Linked DNA regions of Homo sapiens. The protein of the gene in region 2 interacts with the protein of the main gene of each other region in a pairwise test. Each region holds a gene or a part of one and is shown on either strand. Other genes may lie near its edges.

Evidence for each region.
Region 1: the proteins of TLX3 (region 2) and TRIM42 interact in binary tests that used the Homo sapiens proteins (3 or more experiments, as listed by UniProt).
Region 3: the proteins of TLX3 (region 2) and SERPINE1 interact in binary tests that used the Homo sapiens proteins (3 or more experiments, as listed by UniProt).
Region 4: the proteins of TLX3 (region 2) and FNTB interact in binary tests that used the Homo sapiens proteins (3 or more experiments, as listed by UniProt).

What each region holds. Positions count from the first base shown.
Region 1 is NC_000003.12:140,673,974-140,681,081, reverse strand, and holds the start of TRIM42 (tripartite motif-containing protein 42), read right to left. Parts: upstream 3,019-7,108; 5' UTR 2,853-3,018; coding exon 2,512-2,852; intron 1-2,511.
Region 2 is NC_000005.10:171,304,441-171,312,258, forward strand, and holds TLX3 (T-cell leukemia homeobox protein 3), read left to right. Parts: upstream 1-4,807; 5' UTR 4,808-4,925; coding exon 4,926-5,346; intron 5,347-5,709; coding exon 5,710-5,953; intron 5,954-6,948; coding exon 6,949-7,159; 3' UTR 7,160-7,699; downstream 7,700-7,818.
Region 3 is NC_000007.14:101,130,083-101,137,117, reverse strand, and holds part of SERPINE1 (plasminogen activator inhibitor 1 isoform 2 precursor), read right to left. Parts: intron 6,698-7,035; coding exon 6,464-6,697; intron 5,244-6,463; coding exon 5,049-5,243; intron 3,424-5,048; coding exon 3,225-3,423; intron 1,625-3,224; coding exon 1,524-1,624; intron 1,404-1,523; coding exon 1,317-1,403; coding exon of another isoform or gene 1,302-1,316; intron 139-1,301; coding exon of another isoform or gene 118-138; coding exon 34-117; intron 1-33. UniProt on the Homo sapiens protein: Serine protease inhibitor. Inhibits TMPRSS7. Is a primary inhibitor of tissue-type plasminogen activator (PLAT) and urokinase-type plasminogen activator (PLAU).
Region 4 is NC_000014.9:65,059,891-65,063,181, forward strand, and holds the end of FNTB (protein farnesyltransferase subunit beta), read left to right. Parts: intron 1-1,290; coding exon 1,291-1,422; 3' UTR 1,423-2,760; downstream 2,761-3,291. Other genes in the region: CHURC1-FNTB protein, read left to right, coding at 1,291-1,422. UniProt on the Homo sapiens protein: Essential subunit of the farnesyltransferase complex. Catalyzes the transfer of a farnesyl moiety from farnesyl diphosphate to a cysteine at the fourth position from the C-terminus of several proteins having the C-terminal sequence Cys-aliphatic-aliphatic-X.

The DNA.
Region 1 (7,108 bases), on a different chromosome or scaffold from region 2:
TAAAATCAGCAAATGCAGTGTATAAAAATAAATGAAATAGCTGTGGGAATGGAGGTGTAAAAGGCACACAATTTGCTGCTATTGCTATCTCCTCTGTTTGCATAATAATATTTGGATACTAATCTCGACATTGCGGCTGTGTTCCTTTTTGCTTTTGTCTTCTTGCATTCCTTATGTGTCCCTGTCTTCCCTGCTCCCTTGGCCAGGAGCCTATGTCTGAGTCCTGACAGTCACAGGTGCTTCCCAAGTATATTGGAATGGAGTGGCCCTGTGGTGACAGAGAATGCTCCCTGTGTATATTAAGGCACCTGGAAAATTTGTCCCTTAGGGATCTGGGAGCTCTAGGCATGCTGGCCTCGATGTTCTCACCTCTATTTCCTCTCTGCTTTCCCAGATTCCTGCATGGGTCCTGAAGGGATCACCTGGTGGTACAGGTTAATTGTCCATGTAGTGCCTGGATGGACTTTAGTTTGCTTAAAAAAGTAAGGCCTGGAGAATCAAGGTATAATATAAAGAGAGGCTGTTATGAGGCCTTCACAGGAGGTATCTCTACTAGGAAGCTCATGAACTAGCATTTTCACAAAAAAGAAAGAAGAAGTGGGGGAGGGAGGTGTTGGAGGATGAGAAAGAGGTCTCAGGGCTAAGAGACAGGTATTAATGGCCTAGGGAGCTGTGTTAGGGGTGAAAAAGGAAGTGACAAAAAGATTAAGATGGAGAGGGATGAATGAGACCAGAGTGAGGCAGGACAAGTAAGGTGCTGAGCAGAAGGTGGTGATGAGAAGCAGGGGAGGCAGAGGGTCAGAAGCCAGGAGAGAGGCCAGATTGAAGAAAAGCACCCAGAGCCGACCTCCTAACACTTGTGGTAGCATCCCTGCCCATCCTCCAAAAGCCTCAGGCTTGGACGGGGCATTCAGTGGCCATGGTTCCATTTCAAAACAGTCATCAAGCCCAGCGCTTTTATCTTCTTGCTGAGATATCCTGTCTCTGCTCCTCTGCACAGCCCCCTCTGTCTCCCAAAATCAGGCCTGTTCTTGCACCTGGATTCTTACTGTACCACCTATCAAATCTCCTGGCTTCCCTCCTAGCCTCCTGCAGGCCATTCTGCACATTAGAATCACCTGAAGCGGGGTGGGGGGGTTGATTCTAATTAATTCAGATGCTCAGATGGTACCCCAGACCAATAAAATCAATGTTTGGGGGGGTGGGGATCAGGCATCAGTAATTTTAAAAGATCCTCAGGTGACTTCAATGCACAGTAACGTTGGGGAGCTACTGAGCCTAAGGCATTTTCCTAAAGCACCAATTTTATCCCTTTCCTGTTGAAATGGGCTCAGAGGTTCAGTTGCTGTTGCACAACTGAACAACAGGTAGTTGAGAGAGGAGTGTGGACACAATTTTCCATGTTTTAGGATTTCTAGACTTGCATCGAGAATCCCTGGATTTCCTATTTATGCAAACACTATGAGAGGGTCATGGGTGGAGAGCTATGTTTGTTAAGCATCTACTAAATGTTTAATTGCAAGATGGATAATATCTTTCCCCTGAATTCACCAAACCTTTGCTCACAGAATTGCTTTTCCAGGCTTGAAAGCCTTCAAACTGGCCTTCCATTTTTCTGCCTCTTCTAATCCTGTCATCTTATGGTGCTGTCATCTTTCCGCTTCTAAGAAGTGTGCTCTTACTACTTCAGACTCCCCTCATGTGTGACATAAAAAGACTGGTTTGGTAGAGCAGGTGAGGATAATGTAGGACCTGATATGAAGGGTTAGCACTCCAAATGAATAATTGAGACCCTAAGTACTATGACTTCTGGATGGGAAAAAGAAGGTAGTAGGAGTTCATGGATGTATGGGGTATTTATATGGTCCGCAGGGTCAAAAGTGCCCCATAGAAGTTCTTTCTTTTCCATTAAAAGTTACAGGTATTAAGAGTTCATAGGAAGAGAAAGAGCAATTTATATTTTTATATCACATACAGATTACAAAGCACATACATTAATCCTTATATCTACAATATCATGGGGGGGGTATTGTCTCCGTTTTGCAATACAGCATTTTAAAGTTAAGATCCCAAATTTTAGGTTCCAATCCTGACTCTGTATCTTTCCAGCTGTGTGATCCTGGGGCTACTTAACTTCTCAAAGGATCAGTTTCCTCATGGAAACAGTGGACTTAGGGTGAGGGGTTAGCTGGGGTCATGCATGAAGTGCCTGGCAAGTTCCTTAAGCACTAAGTATTAGCTATTACTGTTTTGTACAGATGAGAGAGTTGGGGTTCAGAAGAGTGAAGTGCTCATTTACATAGTTAATGGCGCTTAGATTTGGAGCTCATGGTCTACATACATAGTGACCATTTAGGATACAATTAATTGCTACAAAATTCTTGGCTCCTCCTTTTAGATAAAGAAATGAACTCAGAGGCTCACTGGCCTGCCCTGTAGACTTCACAGCTGGCAAGTGGTCCCTAGTTTTCATGACCCAATGCGGCCCCACATCTGGTGCCTGGCACTTACGAGGTATGGATGCTCCTGAGGCGGCCCTTGTGGAAAGTGATGATGGTATTGCGGCAGCAGCGGCTCTCATAGTAGTAGCAGTTGAGATTGCTGCTGGCTGTGCAGCAGCACTTACAGTTGGGATCATTGGCCCAAGAGCAGCAACACCAATGGCAGTTGGGGCTCTCAGAACAGGTGCAGTGGCAGAACTGGCAGTTCCGCTCATCTTTGTAAGGGCAGGGGAAGCAGGTGCAGTTCCGCTCTGAGGTGAAGATGAACTTGCAGCACAGACAGGAGCATAACTGAGGACAACATCTCTGCCATGTACAACATGGACAGCAAACGCACATAGCAGTTTCCATGGTGCCTACATGATTACCACCGGCCTCCCAGGACTCTTGATGCCTCCTCTACCAGAATACTGCTATCAGTTCTCCAGTGGAGGAGTCCTTCCTCCCATTCCTGAGGCCGTCAGCTTGAAAGTTGCAAGAAGTTGGCTGTTATGAGGACTTCACAGCTGGTGTCCCTACCAGGAAGCTCATAGGCTGGCATTTACATATATCAGTCTGAGGGTATTTGCTTATGTCACAATCCCTGTCTCTCTACCATGCTAGGTAGATAGCAGGATGCGGCCTTGTGGGTGGTAGCTGGTATGTTGGTGGAAACTCCATGCTTCCATGGAACCAGCTGTAGAGGAGTGGTGATGCAATGAGCATCCTGGAAGTTTAGTTGTCATTTGTCACCTTTTGGATAATGGAGTAGATTTCTGAAGCTATTTCTCCTTGTTTGGTGTTCTGCCTGCAATTTGGACAAGTGGACTTCAGATTATGTCTTCGTAGACTGAAAGGCTTGGGTATGGTTAATTAGAAAAGTAGATTCACATGGTTTTCCACATGTTAGAGGAATTGATAGAATTCTATTTGAACAAAGGACAGTGTTTACAAATAATAGCAATGCCATATTTAAAGAGATATCACCATTCAGAGAAAGAGTTAAAGAAAAAAATATATAGGTTCACTTAGGAACTTCTTTCAGTAGTAATTGATTTTATCAATCAATGCATAGTCGCTGCTCATTTTCATGAAGCTTTATACTTAAGTCACTCTGAATATTTCTTGGGTTTTTTGTAGCTGCATGGTGTTTGGGTGAGGTTCAAGCTTTCTGTCTTTTCCCCATCCTACCCCCACTCCAAAAAGAGGCTGGAACTCTACATTAAATCTTTAACTGTTCTGCTAGTATATGCTCAGTATTCCTAGAAAAAAGACCCTATATTTTAGGGAAGAATTTCACCTTCCCATTTAAGCAGCTTGCAAAGATTAAAAGAACAGAAATTTCATGGTCATAGTACATTATAGTATGAATACTGTCTTGTTTTTAGAAAAAGAAGCAGAAGTGAGAGCTGAGTTTAGCTGCAGGAATTTACTGCATAATTTAGTATCTCCCCCTATGGTTATCACCTTTATAATAGAGAAAATCACTGAGTGCCAACTATGCCAGCCACACATTGATATTAGATTTCTACAAGTGAAAATCCCGGCTCTTAGGGTATGTCCTTTATCTTTTTTTAAGGCAAACTGCTAAATTTCTTACTCAAATAAATGTGCCAGTTAATACCAGCAAGGAACATACAACATTCAAAAAAGTGAAACTCCTTTTCCTCACGTTTGCCAAAACTCAGTTTTATCAATCTCTCTCTCCATCCTCCAGGCACATAGGTTAGAGTTTCATTCCCAGATTTATGATACATTTTCACTATTGGTTTCTATAAGGTCTTATTAAAAACTTATTAATATGTAATTCACTTACCATTAAAGTCACCATTTTAGAGTAAACAATTAAATGGTTTTCAGTATATTCATAAAATTGTGCAACTCTCACCATTATCTAATTCCAAAATATTTTCATCACCCCCGTAAAACACTCATTAGCAGTCTCTCCCTGTTCCTCCTTTCCCTCAGCCCTTAGCAGTTACTCTACTTTTCTGTATTTATGGATTTGTCTATTCTGGAGATTTCATATAAATGCTATCATATAATGTGTGGCTTTTGTGTCTGGCTTTAATTTAGTATAATGTTTTCAAGGTTTATCTGTGTTATAGCATGTATCAGTATTTTTTTATGGCTGAATAATTTCACATGGATATACCACATTGTATTCATTGTCAGTTAATGGACATTTAGATTGTTTTCACGTTTTAGCTGTTAAATGTTTAAATGTTTCTGTGAGCATTTGTGTATACATTTTTTTTGTGTGAGCATTTTTGTAGAAATATGTTTCCAGTTCTTTTGGGTAGGTTCCTAGGTGTGGGATCATATGGTAACCCTATGTTTAACTTTTTGAGGAAATGCCAAGCTGTTTTTCAAAGTGACTGCACAATTTTACATTCCCACCAGCAATGTATGAGAATTACCATTTCTCCACATCGTTTTCCAAACTTCTTGTCTTTTTTTTCTTCTGATTATAGCTATTATAGTAGGTATAAAGTAGGATCTCTTTGTGATTTACATTTGGATTTCCCTGATGGCTAGTGATGTTGAGAATCTTTTCATGTCCTTATAGGACATTTGTATGCCTTCTTTAGAGAAATGTCTATTTAAATCTTTTGCCCATTTAAAAATGGAGTTAATATCTTTTTATTGTTGAGTTGTCAGAGCTCTTTGTATTAGCTAGATACTAGACCCTAACCAGATATGATTTGCATCTATTTTCTCCATTCTATGGTTGTCTTTACATTTTTAAATGGTGTCCTTTGAAGCACAAAAGGTTTTAATTTTGATGAAGTCAAATTTATCTCTATTTTTTTTGTAGCTTGCCCATTTGGTGTCATTTAAGAAACCACTGCCCAATCCAAGGCCATGAAGATTTACACCTATGTAATCCTATAATAAATAGCTTTATAGTTTGAGCTCTTACACTGAGGTATTTGAATTATTTTGAATTGTTTTTGTATTTGGTGGGAGTTAGGGGCCCAATTTCATTCTGTTGCATGTGAATATCCAATTGCCATAGCAACATTTGTTGAAAAGACTATTGTTTCCCATTGAGTAGTCTTGAAACCCTTGTTGAAAATCAACTCACCATAGATATATGATTTATTACTGGACTCTGAATGCTATTTCTTTGATCTATATGTCTATCCTTGTGCTAGCCACACCATCTTGATTACTGCAGCTGTGTAGTATGTTTTGAAATTGGAAAGTGTGAGTACTCCACTTTTGTTTCTGTTTTAACATTATCTTGTATTTTCATATAAATTTTAGGATCAGCACTACTACTTTTTGTGCAAAAGTCCACTAGAATTTTGATAGCTATTGCATTAAGTCTGTGGATAAATTTGGGGAGAATTGCCATGTTAAGTTTCCTGATCCACGAACACAGAATATTTCACTATTTATTTAGGTCACCTTTAATTTCTTTCAACAATATTTTGTAGTTTCCATTGTACAGGTCTTGCACTTATATGGTTAAATTTATTCCTAAGCATTTCATTCTTTTGATGCTACTGTAAATAAAATTGATTTTCTTTATATTTGGATTGTTCATTGTTAGTGTGTAGAAATACAACTGATTTTTAATAGGGCCATTTATATTGACTTCTGTGTATATCTTGCAACCTTGCTGAAATCACTATTAGCTCTATTTTTAAAATTTATTTTAAAGGGTTTATATATATAACTTTGTGTTATCTGTGAATAAAGATATTTTCAGTTTTTCCTTTCTAATTTAGATGGCCCTTTTTTATTTTCCTTGCCTAATTTCCCTGGTTAGATCTTCAAGTACAATGTTAAATAGAATTGGCAAGAGTGGACATCCTTGTGTTGTTCCTAATCTTAAGGGAAAAAATTTTAGTTTTTCAACATTAACTATGGCATTCGCTGTCGGTTATTTACAGATGTCCTTTTATCAGATTCAGTTGTATTATTTGATTTTCATATGCTGAGTCAATTTAATAATCAAATTAATTATTTGATTTTCATATGTTGAGTCAATTTTCTGTTCCTGACATAAATCCCATTTCATAATGATGTAATTTTATATTTTGTTGGATTTGGATTGCTAGTATTCTGTTGAGAAATTTTTTAACAGACTAAGACAATATGATTTATTATTCTGAAGTAAATATACGGTTTATAAATATACAGGAACCTGTGATTCCCATCAAGTTCCTGGTAGGAACAAAATGGCACTCAAATTAATTTGTAGAAAAATTGGTTTCTCTTAAATGCAAATCAAAACCACAATGAGATACCATCTCTCACCAGTTAGAATGGTGATCATTAAAAAGTCAGGAAACAACAGGTGCTGGAGAGGATGTGGAGAAATAGGAACACTTTTACACTGTTGGTGGGACTGTAAACTAGTTCAACCATTGTGGAAGTCAGTGTGGTGATTCCTCAGGGATCTAGAACTAGGAATACCATTTGACCCAGCAATCCCATTACTGGGTATATACCCAAAGGATTATAAATCATGCTGCTATAAAGACACATGTGCACATATATTTACTGTGGCACTATTCACAATAGCAAAGACTTGGAACCAAGCCAAATGTCCAACAATGATAGACTGGATTAAGAAAATGTGGCACATATACATCATGGAATAGTATGCAGCCATA
Region 2 (7,818 bases):
CGAAAATCAATGGGTAGAGAGGATGATGGGGTGAGGGTGCTGCTCTGGAGGATGGGCAGAGAGGTGAGGGCTGGCCTGGGTTGTAAAGGATGCAAGGAACCAGCCATAAGCAGGGCTGGGGGAGGTGAATGACGAACTGAGTGCACGCAAATGCCTGCGCCCAATTCTGACCCCTTTTTCTTATCCCTTTGCCTGACCTTGCTTTGTGCTATTGAGTTTAATACCACAAACTCTTGATAATGTCCTCCAGTCCTCCACGCCCTGGACCCAGCCCTGGGACATGGGATCAAATGCCACTAACAGCATTTTGCCCAAAAGGAACTCCCAAGCCAGTAGGGGAGACAAGTGAGCCCCACTATGGCCAGCCCTCACCGCCACTCTTGGGCTCATTCACCCGGACCCTGCACTGCTTCCCCTCCCCACTCAGTCCTGTGACTTAAGAGTCTTTACCACCTACCCCCAAAGAGGGGTGTGAGGTAAAGGGGAATATGTGGGCTTTGTAGTCTAAACAGTCCTGGGTTCAAATCCCAGCTCCACCCCTGTCTACTACATGCCCTTGGACAAGAGACTGTTTCCCTAAGTCAACTGTCCTTGAAGCCTCGTGACCTGCAGTGGGGGGTCCCAAGCAACAGCCGACATCTGAAGGCCTTTTCCTTCCACTGGCTGGCAGAGTCTTGAGACTGATCAGACCTCCTCAGGAAGGTTCTTCCCTAGGTCCTGCCCACTGGGGGAAGCAGTGATGAAGAGCTCAGACTGCTTTGTGCCCACTGTTAGATGGGGAAAGCAAGCCCCTGCACTGGGGAATGGTCCAGGAAATGTGAGTAGGTGCTCAGTAAATATTCGTTGAATAAATAAATGAATGGGCGAATAAATTTCGGCAAGTGTCTTTAGAGCCTCCCATCAGGAAAACTGGAAGGGCCCCTAGGGACTCCTAACTAGGGTGTGTAAGCCAAGAACAGCATGGCAGGTCAGCAACCTGTGACATGGTGTGTGTGCCAAATTATGTGTTTCTGTCTTTTTCTATGGAAGCAGACCACAATATTTTCATCCGTGTTTCAAATAGGGTAGCTGACCCAAATACATTTAAAGTCCTGATTCAGTCTCTACCCCATTTCACAGACAGGGAAATGGAGTCTCATTTCCCTCAGGAAGTCAATGGCAGAATGATCCTGGAGGAACCTGGCCTCCCACAGCTGGGCTCATGGGCCAGCTGGAAATCCCAGCATCTTGCCTGTCATCCCTGAAGCCCCACCCTCTTCTAGATGACTCTCGGCAAAGCCTCCACCAGCTGTACCCCTTTCTTCCAGCTTCTTCTTGGGGAAGAGGAGAGGATGTGCTCCATTCTGAAAGTCTCTCTAGCCCCGGGAATCCTCATCCCCAGTTCTTACAATTCTCATTTCCTAATCTCTTTCAGTGTGTATGCCTCACTGATCAAGTGACAGCAGGTAAATTACAAGGGCAGCAAGAAATTACAACCTCAGGAACACCAAATACATATCAGAACATACCTGGCCAAAACAGTGCTTAGAGGAAAACGTATGCCCTTGAGTGCATTTATTTAAAAAGAAAGAAAATTGACAAATTAAATTTTCAACTCAGCAAAGAAGGAATAAATCTTTTTTTAAACCGCAACATTCACGAAAGAGGTGGCATCTTAAAAGGGGATAATGACATCAAAGGCTTTTTTAAAAACCAACAAAATAACAAACCTTTGGCAAGTATGATCAGGAGAAGGCATGAATGAGCGACACGGGGAATGAGAAGTGGAAGGCATTAGTACAGATTCGTATGAGAGTTGCAAATTCTGAGAGAATCTTCCCACAATGTTACAACAACACATTTGAAAACTCAGATGGAATGGACCATATTCTGGGCACTGGCTTCCAGAGTTGAGCAGGCATCAGAATCACCTGGAGGGCTTGTTAAGCACAGACTGCCGAGTCCTACCCCAGAGTGTCTGATGCCGTAGGTCTGGCGAGGGTCCAATAATTTGCATTTCTAACAAATTCTCCAGTGATGCTGATGCTGCTGCTCTGGAAACACACTCTGAGAACCACTGTCCTAGGGACTAACCAAGTTCCCCCCATTCCTGAGCTGCCTAAGAGCTATCTGGATAGGAAGTGAAAGGAGGCTTATAATTAGTGGCCCAAAGCTCCTTCATCTGTATGACAGGGCTGGACGATGAGGGACCGTGGATCTCAGGAAGCCGGAAGCCAAGCAGTGAAGCAGAGCCCTGACCCGTGCCAGGCTTTACCTGGGGCGCTTATTTAATCCCATGAGGTTTATTTACCAGATGAGAAAACTGAGGCATAAAGAGGATGAATAATTCCCTGAGTCCACAGCTGGTAAACTGAGGTGGGAATCCCATTCTTAAGCACACAAGCTGGGAGCAGCGCTGTGCCACCCACGCCTTAATTCTGTGCCACAAACCTCTGTGCGGTGGGCCTTGTTGTCCTGATTTAACAGTGTCTGAAGTGACAAGGGCAGCCCTGAGTCCCGGGCACTGGAAGCCAGAAGGGAAGTGGAGCTGGTGAGGTGCCAACTCCAGCCCCCAAGTGGGGAGCTGTGCTTCCCTTGAACTCTCAAAGCCTCAATTCCCTCATTAGTGAGAAATTGGGGCCACTAACAGCCCTTTCCTCACAGGGTCATTGTGAAGAATAAATAAGTGTCCACCTCCCTGCCTGGCACAGGCTAGGGTCTCAGCTACAGTAGCTTTATAGTTGTCATTAAAGTTATTATGATATAACCGCCAGAGTTTCACACAGGCACTGCCACAGATGTTATCTCATTTTGTTCTCACAGCCACCCTGGGGGTAGCTGGTGCCCTTTTTGTTTTACAAATAAGGAAAATGCGGTTCTGGGAGGGGCGGTTAGGGACCCACACTGCCAGTGGCAGAGCCTGAATTAGAAGCAGGAGGCCCCCTGGAGCCAGGGCAATGGCATCTACCCCATCTGAGGGTCGTTGTCGCTGGAAGGGAGTGAGGGAGCACTTGCCCAGACCCCAGACATCCTGCAGCTCTCACTCCTCACTGTTGGGCCTCCCTCTCCACACCCACCAGGAAGGCTTAGCAAGGGCCAGGAATTTGCCCAAGGTCACACAGCGGGCAAGTGACCTAACTCCAGACCCAGGCCTGGAGGCCCTGCAAATCCTGACGCCTTTGGATTGTTGGGAGAAGAGAGAAAGAATCCCCAACCTGCACCTCCTGTCTTTCCCCGTCCTCTGAAACTGACCCTACTGGTAGACAAATACACCTTTCTCTCCAACGTACTGAGCCCCTGCAAATAAAATTAAACTGCCAACAAAATAAACAAGAGTCACAACAATAATACATCAGCCATTACTCTGGGGGGATAGAGTGGGAGGTGAGCCACGCTGCCCAGTGCCTACTACGTGCCAGGCCCAGTGCTCTGCGCTCCCTCAATATCTCACTCGCGGCTCACGAACAACCCGCATGCATGCATTATTTTCCTTTTTTGCAAACGAGAAAACCGAAATCTAAATATATAGAGTCAATTTCTCAAGGTCACTCAGCGAGGAAATGGCCAGTCCAAATTTGAACACACTTCTGGCCAACAACAGCACATCCGAGCTCTCACCACTGTCCACACCACAAGGAGCGGGAGGAAGAACCCAGGCCAGGGGTGCGACACTCAAAGAGTTTGCACCTAACGATTTTAGAATTCGCTGGAAGAAAATGATTCCGCTTGTCTCCCCAAAGCTGCAGCGGAAGGTGACTACTTCGTGTGCGGTCCTGTCCACGGTGCCCTGGGCCGGGTAGACAGTCACTGAGGCGCGAGCAGAACGGGGAGTGGTTCCAGCGCCCAAAGTGGACTGGAGCCGGGAAGGGCTCACCAGTCGCGTTTCCCAAAGAAATCCCGCAATTTGCTCTAGGAGCTGCCCGCGCCTTTGACATTCAGGAACCCGAAGTCCCTAGACCCGCCGAGCCGCGAGCGGGTTCCCACGCGCGACCACAGCCCCCTTCCATCCTGCAACGAATTACGAGAGTCAGGTCCCCGCTCCCCACCGGGCGACCCCGCGTCCCTAGCCCAGCCGCAGCTGGCACGCGTGGGCACCTGCGAGTCACGCCTCGGTCCGCCTGGCCGGAGCCAGGGAGTGTCTCCAAAGTGGCCGCGAGGCCGCGGCCGAAACCCGGGCGGGGGCGAATTCTCCCCACGCGGGTCGGCGTCATCCGGGGCGCGGAGAACGCTACGGTGCTCCCCTCGCCCCGCGCGCAGGCAGCGCGAAGCCTGCCCCGGGTAGTGCGCCCCTTTCGTTCCTCCGGCGGCGGTAGCGTCCAAGGGGCTTCTGCGGATTCCGCCGGGTCGTCCCGGGGTTGCAACTCCATTGTACCTGAAAGGATGCATTTGGTTTGGCTTTTGCTCAGATGAAAAAAAAAAAAAATTGGAAGAAAACGAAAACCCACTCAGCAAAAGACAATTTCACAAGCGGAGCGCTCTACCCACCCAGCGCGGTGTCTGGGAAGCGGCCCGGCCCGGAGGAGCGGGGAGCGTCTGCTAATTGCAGCTTCGTTAGATTTCGGGTTTGGGAGGCTGTGGTTCGGGCTCTAATATCCGCCGCCCATTATCCCTGCTAATAAATTTGACCTATTGTTCGTTTGTTAAAATGATGTCACCTTGGAACAGTCCCTAAGCTCCTATTTCCATGAATTAGGCCTTTATTGAAAGCCGGGAGCCAATGAGAGGAGAGAGGCTTGTTGATCGCAGCCAATGGCTGCGGCAGGAGAGGAATTAGCAGCGGAAACTCCAGGTTCGGTTCAAGAAAGATGACACAGAGCCTGTCGGGCCCGCGCACTCTTGGCAAAGTTTCAGTGCGACGAGAGGCGCCGGGCGCTCCATGGCCGCGCCGTAACGGGGACCCAGCCGCCTCCCCGCCCAGCCCAGCCCAGCCCTTCCGCCCGCCCAGGATGGAGGCGCCCGCCAGCGCGCAGACCCCGCACCCGCACGAGCCCATCAGCTTCGGCATCGACCAGATCCTTAACAGCCCGGACCAGGACAGCGCACCCGCCCCGCGGGGCCCCGACGGCGCCAGCTACCTGGGAGGGCCCCCCGGGGGCCGTCCGGGCGCCACATACCCGTCTCTGCCCGCCTCCTTTGCGGGCCTCGGCGCGCCCTTCGAGGACGCGGGATCTTACAGTGTGAACCTGAGCCTAGCGCCCGCAGGCGTGATCCGGGTGCCGGCGCACAGGCCGCTGCCCGGGGCCGTGCCACCGCCTCTGCCAAGCGCGCTACCCGCCATGCCCTCCGTGCCCACGGTCTCCAGCCTTGGCGGTCTCAATTTCCCCTGGATGGAGAGCAGCCGCCGCTTCGTGAAAGACCGCTTCACAGGTGAGCAGAGCTGGCGACCAGGCTCCAGGCCTCCGCCCTCTCGGGGCCAGAGGCGCCGCGCCCTGTGCGCTCCACTCCCGGAAACCATTTCAGAGGCCCAAGCGCGGCGGAGGCCTCGGCCCCAGGGCCCCGGGCAGCCGTGGTGGGGAGGGTAATCGGAGAGTTGCAGGAAAATAAGCCCGTGCCCGGGGGAAGGGACAGGGGGCGAGGGGGTCTCCCGACCGGCTTGGTGTCTCTGGAAACGCGCGCGACCAGCGAAATAGCGGAGCTCTCCGTGTCCCACGGGGCGCCACGGGGTCCGCATGGGGCCTGAACGGTGGCGGAGCCGGGCTGGGCTTCAGGGGCCCTCCTGTGTCTCCGCAGCGGCGGCCGCACTCACGCCCTTCACCGTGACCCGGCGCATCGGCCACCCCTACCAGAACCGGACGCCGCCCAAGCGTAAGAAGCCGCGCACGTCCTTTTCCCGGGTGCAGATCTGCGAGCTGGAAAAGCGCTTCCATCGCCAGAAGTACCTGGCCTCTGCCGAGAGGGCGGCGCTCGCCAAGTCCCTCAAAATGACGGACGCGCAGGTCAAGACCTGGTTCCAAAACCGGAGGACCAAGTGGCGGTGAGAGAGGCCTGACCCGGCCCACCTTACACCTGCCCTTCACCTGTCCCGCCCCGAGCCGCAGCCTCGCACTAGCCCTATTTTAAGGCTATCCACTACCCCCGCCCCCCTCTGCCTCCCCCAAACACACCCCCACCCCGCCTTCGCAGATTGTACCTCTTCCTTTCACCCTTCTCGCTGGCCTGTGCTTCTCTCTCCATCGTGGTCTCCCACGCCTTGGTTTCTCCTCCATCCCCATCCCCATCTTTCGTGAGCCCCTCCAACTCTCTCCCCGTGTTTTGTACGGTCTCCTGCGTTCACTTGATTTCCTCTCACCCACCCCCGCCCCAAACACACAGGCACACACACACACACACACACGCGCACACACACGGGCCTCTCGCACTCTCCTTCTCCTCCTTCTTCCAGCCCGCCCTCTCGGATTTTCAACAATCCTCGTGGACGCCGGTTTCCTCTCCCCCCATCTCCGCGTCTCCATTCCAGCCGCGTTTTTATCCGATCTCTGTTTTGATTCAACCCGTAAACGGCGAAGCGATCGCGTCTGGAAAGGGGTTCAAGACAGGCCCTGGGCGAACTGGATGAGACTGACCCAGCCCCCGGGCGTCGTGCGGGTGGTGCAGAGCCAGCCTGCTCACCCGCGGACCCCAGCGACCCCGGTTCCCGCAGGGCCAAGTCAGTTACACATAGGCCCTGCCCTTGCTATCTGGCGAAAGGAACAATCTTTATTGTTGGTGAAGCCACAATACCCGGGCGTGCAGGTGGGCGGCGGGCAGAGTCCCCTCCTGGAGACCCTCTGGCACACAACAAAAACAAATGATCCTAACCGGCTCCCTGGATATAAGAGCCTCGGGCGTAAAGCGCGGGCTGGGAGGCAGACGGGTTCTGCGCCTCGAGGCTCCCGGATGGCCTCGGCTCCCGGGAGGGCCGGGGCCCCGCCGGCGGCCCCGCGGTGCCGGGTGCATGACGGTACTGTCCCTCTCCCTCCCCCGGTGCAGGCGGCAGACGGCGGAGGAGCGGGAGGCGGAGCGGCAGCAGGCGAGCCGGCTCATGCTGCAGCTGCAACACGACGCCTTCCAAAAGAGCCTCAACGACTCCATCCAGCCTGACCCGCTCTGTCTGCACAACTCGTCACTCTTTGCTCTGCAGAATCTGCAGCCCTGGGAGGAGGATAGTTCCAAGGTTCCCGCTGTCACCTCCCTGGTGTGAGCCCACCAGCGCGCACCGTCGCCACGGATCGCCGCCCCCACCCAGCCGGGCGCCCCGGACCCCCCAGGCGGGCTGCGGGGGAACCGGCGCCGAGAGGGGAAGGGGCCGCCTAGCCCGAGTAGGCCCCAGGGCGCGGCCACAGACTGGCGGGCCGCGGAAGGGGGTAGGGCCCGAGCTCCGCGCGGCCGCACAATCCGAGCCCCCGCCCCGCGCCCCGTCCCGCCCCAGGCCCGGGCCTGACAAGAAAGCGCCTTACGTTTCTCCGCCCCCCGCCCGCACCCCCCGGGCCGGGCGCCTGTATTATACTTTGTACTTTTGCCCAAACGTGTAAATAATAAAAAAGTTTTGGCTTTTTTCTTTAGAAACCGGCCACCTGCTTCCCCCGCGGGGGCCGCTGGAGGAAGGGCAGCCGACCCGGCCGCTGGGGGAAGTGCCAGGGGCCCGGGGCACCCTGCGTTTAGGCTGGGTCCACTCTTCTTCTTTTCCGTTCCTTTTATTTAAGTCTTTTTATTTAATAAAAAAGTTAGCTATTTCACTTAACGCCGCTTTTATTTCGTTTTCGTTCCAATAATGCTCGGCGACCCCCGGCCCTGCGCCCCACCCCTGCGGCGGTAGAAGCCGAGCGGCGGCGCGCAGGGCGCGTCCACTTCCGCAACGTT
Region 3 (7,035 bases), on a different chromosome or scaffold from region 2:
GAGGATGTGGAACGTGATGGGTTCCAGGCTCACCTGTGGGGTTGTGCCGGACCACAAAGAGGAAGGGTCTGTCCATGATGATCTCCTCGGGGGCCATGCGGGCTGAGACTATGACAGCTGCAAGAGAAGGGACAATGTCTTAGAACAGAGGGATGCTGGCACTGGCACCACCCCCACCCCCGCCGTTTTTCTTAGAGACAGGGTCTCCCTCTGTCGCCCAGGTGGGAGTGCAGTGGCACCTTCATGGCTCACTGCAGCCTTGAACTCATGGGCTCAAGTGATCCTCCCACCTCAGTCTCCCAAGTAACTGGGGCTACAGGTGCATGCCACCATGCCTGGCTAATTTTTTTCTAATTTTTGTAGAGACACAGTCTCATTATATTGCCCAGGCTGGTCTCAAATTCCTGGGCTCAAGCGATCCTCCTGCCTCGGCCTCCCAAAGTGCTGGGATTACAGGTGTGAGCCACTAAGCCCAGCTGGAAGTTGTTTGTTTTCCTGAATATGAACCTTAAAAGTTTAGGGACATCCTCTGAGACCTGGTTTCCTCCAGGAGCTTGGTAGCAATGGATCAGCTCTTCCCTTACACACATTTATCTAAATCCTTTAAGGGCTTATTGATAAGCTCTTTCTTTTCTTTTCTTCTCTTTCTTTCTCTTTCTTTCTTTCTTTCTTTCTTTCTTTCTTTCTTTCTTTCTTTCTTTCTTTCTTTCTTTTCTCTCTCTCTCTCTTTCTTTCTTTCTTTTCTTCAGAGTCATGCTCTATTGCCCAGGCTGGAGTGCAGCAGCGTGATCTCGGCTCACTGCAACCTCTGCCTCCTGGATTCAAGTGATTCTCCTGCCTCAGCCTCCCAAGTAGCTGGGACTACAGGCACATGCCACCACGCCTGCCTAATTTTTGTATTTTTAGTAGAGATAGGGTTTTGCCATGTTGCCCAGGCTGGTCTCGAATTCCTGACCTCAAGTGATCCACCTGCCTTGGTCCCCCAAAGCGCTGGGATTACAGGTGGGAGCCACCATGCCCAGCCTGATAAGCATGTTTCTTAAGTTTACTTCCCACTGTGGGAACAACTTGGGTTTTTCTTTAGGAGGCCTTTTCACAGTCAGGGAACTTAGGAGCCATCAGGCGAGGAAACAGGGTTCCATGGTCCCAAGCCCGTTTTCCAGGCTGAGAAACAGGTGGGGAGTGGGTGATGGCTGAGCACAGACAGAGCTGCTCTGTGCCGAGAGGGCTGCGGGGTCCTTTCCGGGTCTGGGGACCAGTTATCCTGAAGGGCGATGGAGGCGACACCCGTGGAGCCTCACCTGAGCCAGACTCACCTGTGGATGAGGAGGCCACCGTGCCACTCTCGTTCACCTCGATCTTCACTTTCTGCAGCGCCTGCGCGACGTGGAGAGGCTCTTGGTCTGAAACAGATGTGGATACAGGATTAGATCAGCTGCCGCTCTCAAGGAGAGGTTCCTTTTTCCTCTTAGGGGCCCCCGCAGTCCACTGGGGTGAGAAAATGCAAAGGAAAGTCTTCTTACCTGAAAGACTCGTGAAGTCAGCCTGAAACTGTCTGAACATGTCGGTCATTCCCAGGTTCTCTAGGGGCTTCCTGAGGTCGACTTCAGTCTCCAGGGAGAACCTGCAGATAGCAGCAAGAGGCTGCTCAAGCCGGGGTCCCCTCTGGCTGGCAGCTCCCACCTTTCCCCATCCCCTACCAGGTGTCCCCCGAATCAAGTGGCCAGAATAGGGACGGAGGTGAAGGTTGGAGAGGGAGGCCTGGTTCGTTCGTTCTTTCTTTCCTTTCTTTTTCTTTCTTTCTTTCTTTCTTTCTTTCTTTCTTTCTTTCTTTCTTTCTTTCTTTCTTTCTTTCTCTCTCTCTCTTTCTTTCTCTCTCTCTTCTTTCCTTTCCTTTCCTTCCTTCCTTCCTATTTTTCTTTTTTTTTTTTTGAAACAGATTCTTGCTCTGTCCCCCAGGCTGGAGTGCAGTGGCGTGATCTCGGCTCACTGCAGCCTCCACCTCCCAGGTTCATGTGATTCTCTGGCCTCAGCCTCCGGAGTAGCTGGGATCATAGGCGCTCGCTACCACGGCTGGCTAATTTTTGTATTTTTAATAGAGACAGGGTTTCACCATGTTGGCCAGGCTGGTCTCAAACTCCTGACCTCAAGTGATCCGCCCGCCTTGGCCTCCCCAAATGCTGAGATTACAGGCATGAGCCACCACACCCAGCCGGCCTGGTTCTTCTTCTAAAGCTGTTTACAAAGTCCCCCCTTAGAGCTGAAAATCCTAATATTCATGAACATTCTTCTGCAATCTCCCCACCCCCTCCCACCTATGACTAATTACTTTCCTCAAATAAGACAGTAGTTTCAGCATAATTTTATTCAGCCTGGCTGGGGTGGGGGAAGCTAAGGGCAAATTCTCCTGCAAGGATGTTGGAACAAAAATCTGTTCTGCAGATTGTGTTTCTGAGAGCTAACCCTGAAGAGGACTCAAGCAGGGGGCCTTTGTGCACTCTCTGCTTCTCACCAGGGCACAACTAATTACCTCCATTTTTATGAGCCAGAGAGAGAGGAGAAAAAAAAAAAAGAGGAAGAGAGAGGATGCAAGTGAGAGCACGCACCAGCTAACCAACTAAATTCTCCTCTTTCCCCAAGCCTGGCATTATAGCATCCGGAAATTTGGGATGAGCGTGGTGGGAGGCTTCCCTATAATTCTGGAGTTCCCCAGCTCCAGCCTTCTCCTTCTGCAGAAAGATTTCAAAAAATCTCTTTGCTTCCTTCTGCAGAAGGATTTCGAAAAATCTGCTTTCTTGGAACCCCAGCTAGAAGCTGCGCTTTGAGCTGCTCCGTCCTTGGAAGTGATTTCTTTTGTTTGGATGTTGACTTGAAAGGGTTGGGGATGGAAGTGCTGATGGGGCGACCCTAAGTAGATGTGGACTGATTGGGCCCCCACCTCCCTCATTTCTCTGACTCTCCTTTTGGGGGCTTTTGCTGGGTATTCTGGGGATAGTCAATGTGGGGGTGTGGTCAGGAAGAGCTGTCCCCTGCCCTCCAGCAGAAACAGGGGGAGGGATGATTGCAAGACTCATAATCAAACCCAGGCCACAGTTTCCCATCAGCCTCCCACACATGCATGTCCTGCAAGCATCACAGATCTGGGAAATTCAACCTGGGGGCGGTGACTTTAGGGAGCCAGGAGAGAGGGGTTGGTAGGTCGGGGAGATAGCGGGGTGGCTTACTTGGGCAGAACCAGGAGGCGGGGCAGCCTGGTCATGTTGCCTTTCCAGTGGCTGATGAGCTGGGCACTCAGAATGTTGGTGAGGGCAGAGAGAGGCACCTCTTTTTCATAAGGGGCAGCAATGAACATGCTGAGGGTGTCCCCGTGGTAGGGCAGTTCCAGGATGTCGTAGTAATGGCCATCGGGCGTGGTGAACTCAGCTGTGAAGACGACAAGATGGTTCGTTGGAAATGGCTCCAGCTCTCGCTGATGGCAACCCAGCACTGGGTTTTCACCTAGTTCTCCTGGCTTCTCCACTATTTCTGGAAGCCAGGCTCTCTCTCGCTCTTGGCTTTTGGGTATCCCCTGTTCACTGCTCCCCTATTCAGTATTTTAATTTCTATTTCCCTTCTCTTCTGCCAATTCAGTATCTTCTAATTTCTCTCTCTCTGTGTGTGTGCATGTGTGTGTGTGTGTGTGTGTGTGTAAGAGACAGGGTCTCACTGTCACACAGACTGGAGCGCAGTGGTGCAATCATAGCTCACTGCAGCCTCCGAATCCGGTTCAAATGTTCCTCCCGCCTCAGCTTCTGTATTTTGTTTGTTTGTTTGTTTGTTTGTTTTGAGAAGGAGTCTCACTCTGTCGCCCAGGCTGGAGTGCAATGGCATGATCTCGGCTCACTGCAACCTCCCCCTCCCGGGTTCAATAGATTCTCCCACCTCAGCCTCCTGAGTAGCTGGAATTACAGGCACCTGCTATCATGCCCAGCTAATTTTTGTATTTTTATACAGATGGGGTTTCACCATGTTGGCCAGGCTGGTCTTGAACTCCTGACCTCAGGTCATCCACCCGCCTTGACCTCCCAAAGTGCTGGGAATACAGGCGTGAGCCACCGTGCCTGGCCTCACCTCAGCTTCTTGAGTAGACTACAGATGCATGTCACCAAGCCTGGCTAATTAAAAAAAATTTTTTTTTTGTAGAGGCAGGGTCTTGCTATGCTGCCCAGACTGGTATTCAACTTCTGGCCTCAAGCAATCCCCCTTCTCAGCCTCCCAAAGTGCTGGGATTATAGGCGTGAGTCGCCGCGCCAGGCCTTCTCTGTCTCTTTTGGCCTTCCTTCACTTCCATTTTCCCCACACCCAGCCACCAGTTCATCCCAGTCCTCATCCTTTTTTTTTTTTTTTTTTTTTTGAATGGAATTTCACTCTTTTGCCCAGGCTGGGGTGAAGTGGCTCAATTTCGTTCGGCTCACTGCAACCTCCACCTCCCGGGCTCAAGTGATTCTCCTGCCTCAGCCTCCCGAGTAGCTGGGATTACAGGCGCCTGCCACCACACCTGGCTAATTTTTGCATTTTTAGTAGAGACAGGGTTTCACCATGTTGGCCAGGCTGGTCTCAAACTCCTGACCTCAAACTCCTGATCCACCTGCCTTGGCCTCCCAAAGTGCTGGGATTACAGGCGTGAGCCACAGCACCTGGAGTCCTCATCCTCTTAACCTCAACTCCCCCAGCAGGATTTCTCATCCCCAGGTAATCACACTAGCAACACACGAAGATGAGACCCTGGAGTCAGGTGGACAAATGTGGCCCTGAGGGAATCTCTGGATTTCAGCTTCTTCATCCTTCATGGGATAAACCTCCTGTCTTCTGTTCCCATTATCCTGATGTCTCCTGCTTGGGAAATCTTTGTCAAAGCTGGAGTATATTCTAGGGTCTCTCCTCCCTTAAAGGGGAGCATTCCCTGTGGTCTTCCTCCCTCAGAGGGTGACATTTTGGGTATTCCTTGGGAGACCCCAGGAATGAGATGCAGTTGCTGTGGGCTGTGGGGAAGGGGCTCTTGGACTTACTATAGTTGAACTTGTTGGTCTGAGCCATCATGGGCACAGAGACAGTGCTGCCGTCTGATTTGTGGAAGAGGCGGCGGTGGGTGCTGGAGTCGGGGAAGGGAGTCTTCCACTGGCCGTTGAAGTAGAGGGCATTCACCAGCACCAGCCGTGTCAGCTGGTCCACGGCTCCTTTCCCAAGCAAGTTGCTGATCATACCTATGGGAAAATCAATGATCAGGAAGATCAGGAAGTTAGACGATTTTGTTGTTGTTGTTGTTGTTGTTTTGAGATGGAGTCTCACTCTATTGCCAGGCTGGAGTGCAGTGGCGCGATCTCGGCTCGCTGCAACCTCTGTCTCCGGGGTTCAAGCAATTCTCCTGCCTCAGCCTCCCGAATAGCTGGGATTACAGGCGCCTGCCACCATGCCTGGCTAATTTTTGTATTTTTAGTAGAGACGGGGTTTCACCATGTTGGTCAGGCTCGTCTCAAACTCCTGACCTTTTGATCCACCTGCCTTAGCCTCCCAAAGTGCTGGGATTACAGGTGTGAGCCACCATGCCCGGCTGAAGTTAGACAAAGTTTTTAAGCCTTTTAGATGTTTCCCGGAGTCCCCAGTCCTCAATTGGATGTATGTCAAAGGGCTGCAGTCAGGGGTTTAAATGAACCCGTCTAGTTCCTTTTTTTGGAGACAAAGTCTTGCTCTGTCACCCAGGCTGGAGTGCAGTGGCATGATCTCAGCTCACTGCAGCCTCTGCCTCCCGGGTTCAAGTGATTCTTTGAACCTCATCCTCCCGAGCAGCTGGGATTATAGGCATGCGCCAACACACCTGGCTAATTTTTTGTATTTTTGACAGAGACAGGGTTTCACCATGTTGGCCAGGCTGGTCTCGAACTCCTGTGCTCAGGCAATCTGCCCGCCTTGGCCTCTCAAAGTGCTAGGATTAGAGGCGTGAGCCACCGTGCCCAGCCTAAGATTTGGTTCTTAAAGCATCCAGCCCTTTGTCCATAGAGAAGAGAATGCTGAAAAGGAGCATTTTTTAGGATATGTGGATTTGGTTTTTGTTTGTTTTTTAGAGATGAGGTCTTGTTCTGTGACCCAGGCTGGAGTGTGGTGGTGCAAACATAGCTCACTGCAGCCTTGAACTGCTGGACTCAAGTGATCCTCCCACCTCAGCCTCCCAAGTAGCTGGGACTACAGGTGTGCACCACCATGCCCGGCTGGTTTTTAAATTTTTTGAAGAGATGAGGTCTTGTTATGTTGGCCAGGCTGGTCTCAAACTCCAGGCCTCAAGCCTTCCTCTCGCCTAGACCTCCCAAAGTGTTGGGCTGGGATTACAGGTGTGAACTACTGCACCCAACTGGGATATGTGGATTTATTTCCAAATTCCCTTTCTCTTGAGGCCCAGGAAATGGGTTTCCTTTCCCTGCCTGCTCACCTTTTGTGTGTGTCTTCACCCAGTCATTGATGATGAATCTGGCTCTCTCCACCTCTGAAAAGTCCACTTGCTTGACCGTGCTCCGGAACAGCCTGAAGAAGTGGGGCATGAAGCCCTGGACCAGCTTCAGATCCCGCTGGACGAAGATCGCGTCTGTGGTGCTGATCTCATCCTTGTTCCATGGCCCCATGAGCTCCTTGTACAGATGCCGGAGGGCGGGGGCCATGCCCTTGTCTGCACCGGGACAGAGAGGAGAGGACATGTGAGGCTTATGCTGAATTGAGGGTTCCCAGCCGAGCCCACTTCCCCCACAAGGGGCTCCACTCTGATGGATGGGGGCTACCGTGCTTTCCCAGGGCTCTCTGGAGGGAGATTTCATTCCAGGATGAAATCTCTTTTCTGTATCTCCTTCCTTTCTTCAAAAGTCTCAGATCCCAACCCTTTCTTTGGGCTAGAATATTTTTCTCTGTTCTTAAATTATGAACCCTAAATATTTTCTTCCTGTTTTTTTTTTTTTTTTTTTTTTGAGTTGGAGTTTTGCTCTTGTCTCCCAGGCTGGAGTGCAATGGCGC
Region 4 (3,291 bases), on a different chromosome or scaffold from region 2:
TGGCACAATCTTGGCTCACTGCAACCTCCGCCTCCCGGGTTCAAGCAATTCTCCTGCTTCAGCCTCCCAACTAGCTGGGATTACAGACACTCACCATCATGCTCGGCTAATTTTTGTATTTTTGTAGAGACGGGGTTTCACCATCTTGGCCAGGCTGGTCTTGAACTCCTGACCTCGGGTGATCCATCCACCTCGGCCTCCCAAAATGCTGGGATTACAGGCATGAGCCACCGCGTCCGGCCCCCTTTTTCTTGATTATAAATGTAAATACATGTTTATTGTTTTAATAATTGGGATACATAAAATATAAAAAAGAAAATGAAAAACAATCATATCACTATTAATATTTTGGTATGGGTACAATTTTTGCTATTTATATACATCACAGGTACAAATACACTTTTTAAAAAGTTTGAGACCAGGTGTGGTGGCTCACACCTGTAACCCCAGCACTTTGGGAGGCCGAGGCGGGTGGATCACCTGAGGTCAGGAGTTCGAGACCAGCCGGACCAACATGGTGAAACCCTGTCTCTACTAAAAATACAAAAATAATCCCAGCACTTTGGGAGGCCGAGGCGGGCGGATCACGAGGTCAGGAGATCGAGACCATCCCGGCTAAAACGGTGAAACCCCGTCTCTACTAAAAATACAAAAAATTAGCCGGGCGTAGTGGCGGGCGCCTGTAGTCCCAGCTACTTGGGAGGCTGAGGCAGGAGAATGGCGTGAACCCGGGAGGCGGAGCTTGCAGTGAGCCGAGATCCCGCCACTGCACTCCAGCCTGGGCGACAGAGCGAGAGACTCCGTCTCAAAAAAAAAAAAAAAAAATACAAAAATTACCCAGGCGTGGTGGCTCACACCTGTAATCCCAGCTACTCAGGAGGCTGAGGCAGGAGAATTGCTTGAACACAGGAGGCAGAGGTTGCAGTGAGCTAAGATCGTGTCAATGCACTCCAGCCTGGGCAACAGAGCAAGACTCTCTCAAAAAAAAAAAAAAAAAAAAAAAAACAGTTTGAGATAGTATTGTACATACTGTTTTCTCACATAATATGTTGTAAGTATTTGCCTGTATCGTTAAATATTTAAATGCGTGTTTATAATGGCTGTATATTAACCTGTGTCCCATGTACTAGATAGTTTTAGCAAATACACCATTTTTGAACCTTTGGGCTTTGTGTGTATCTCTGATTCCTTATACTAAATTCTTAGAAGTGCCTTTCATGGAGCAAAGGATGTGTTATGTTTTCAAGGACCACCGGGGTGATTAACTGGCACCTTTTCTTCTCTTTGCAGCAGCCCACTCACCCAGTGTACAACATTGGACCAGACAAGGTGATCCAGGCCACTACATACTTTCTACAGAAGCCAGTCCCAGGTTTTGAGGAGCTTAAGGATGAGACATCGGCAGAGCCTGCAACCGACTAGAGGACCTGGGTCCCGGCAGCTCTTTGCTCACCCATCTCCCCAGTCAGACAAGGTTTATACGTTTCAATACATACTGCATTCTGTGCTACACAAGCCTTAGCCTCAGTGGAGCTGTGGTTCTCTTGGTACTTTCTTGTCAAACAAAACCAATGGCTCTGGGTTTGGAGAACACAGTGGCTGGTTTTAAAAATTCTTTCCACACCTGTCAAACCAAAAATCTATCAGCCCACGTGGTGTGGTTGGTGAACAGTGCATGCCAGGAGGAAGCAGTCCCTCCTCACCAGCTCTCCAGCCAGGACGATCACACAGAGATGAATGGCATCTGAGTATTACGGCATCCAGAGCCACTGCTGACTCCCACTTGCACGCCACCATTCAGTCACCAGACTGGGTGCCCTCCGATGGGTGGAATAAGTCTGCTTCATGCCAAGGCTGGGCTTTGGGTCCCACCAAGATGAGTTCTCTGTAAGACTGTGGTGGAGTTGCACCAGGAGGTGCCTCTGCCTCTCGACTTGCACCCTGGTCATTTGTAAGGGAAAAGAGCTGGAGGTGGGGAGAGAAAGATCTCCTTCAGTTGGGAGTCCTTCCACTTCAACACTGGAGAACTGAGCCTTGCATCTCTCCAGGGTCCAAGGCCACGCTTGGTGCACAGGCAAGACTTGCTTCAGCCCCAGGTGTGGTGACTTAGACCTAGGAAACCAATTATGAGTGGAAAGTGACCCTCTAGTTCAACTGTGCCAGAGGAAACAGCCCTCCAGTGCCCACCTGCCTCACTCCTCCCTATCATGTACCGTGAAAACCCCCTCTGATGGCCTCAAGGCAGTGCCTGCAGGCCGAGGCCCTTCTGGGGGTTTCTATCTTTCTTCCACCAGACTCCAAGCCCACTCTCCTCCAAGACTGTGTTGTCTTTTCTCACCAAGAGTATTAACACTACTAAGTCTTTCACCTTAACTTATGACTCAGGATTTATTCACGTCCTGCCCACTCTAGGCTCACAGGAATAAAATCAAGTGCTAGACACACTGGCTGCTACTAAGGCACTAGCCTCTGTAGCTGGTGGTGGCAGCGTGGGGTGCCGCCCAGCGTGCTGGGTCCTGGCAGTGCCTCTGCTGTGCTGCACATTGAGCCCTTTCTCAGTCAGTGGAGTATCAAGTTGGGCCATCTGTCTACTGACCTGGCCTTCATGTAAGCAGCTGTGGGCTGCGGGCAGACAGGAGCTCAGAGATGCAGCATGAGGCGCTTAGAAAAACCTGGCCATTTGCTGCCTCTAATTCCCTTTTGCTTTGCCATATTGGGCTATGTATTACCTCCTTGAAATAATAAAAGAATAACATTTTCTATGATGTCTCTTATTTGTGATCTGTACCAAGAAAATGCCCAATGGTAGGAGCTACTAAAGGTTGCTCAGGGATCGTCAGTCTCCTGTGTGCAGGATTCCAGACTGTTCACATCGGTGGTGACAGAGGAATGACCGAGTTCCATCCTCACATGCCGTCTCCTCCAGTAGAGGAAGCCGTGGGCCTAACAGAGAGTGGGAAGAGATGTTTTCCAAGCTCCCTGGGGTAATTCGGTATGCTATGTCCCAGCCCTCCACACACTGCACTTCATGGTCTGTCTCCGACAGACAGCAAGGACTGGGCCTAGTAGCCCCAGAGCAGGCTGACTTAGCAAGGGTGGGTGGATGTCTGGCCAGAGGCAGGGGCTGTCACAGGGACAGGCTGGAACTCTGTGGCCACTTGGCTTTCCCTTCCTCTGGCGAGAGACCCTCTCCCATGGGAGGCCAAGAACATGGATGTCCTGTGGCCTGACCCTCTTGGAGGGGAGAGAAGATGGTGTCCTTAGAGGGCACCCAAATCCATGTAAATAAGC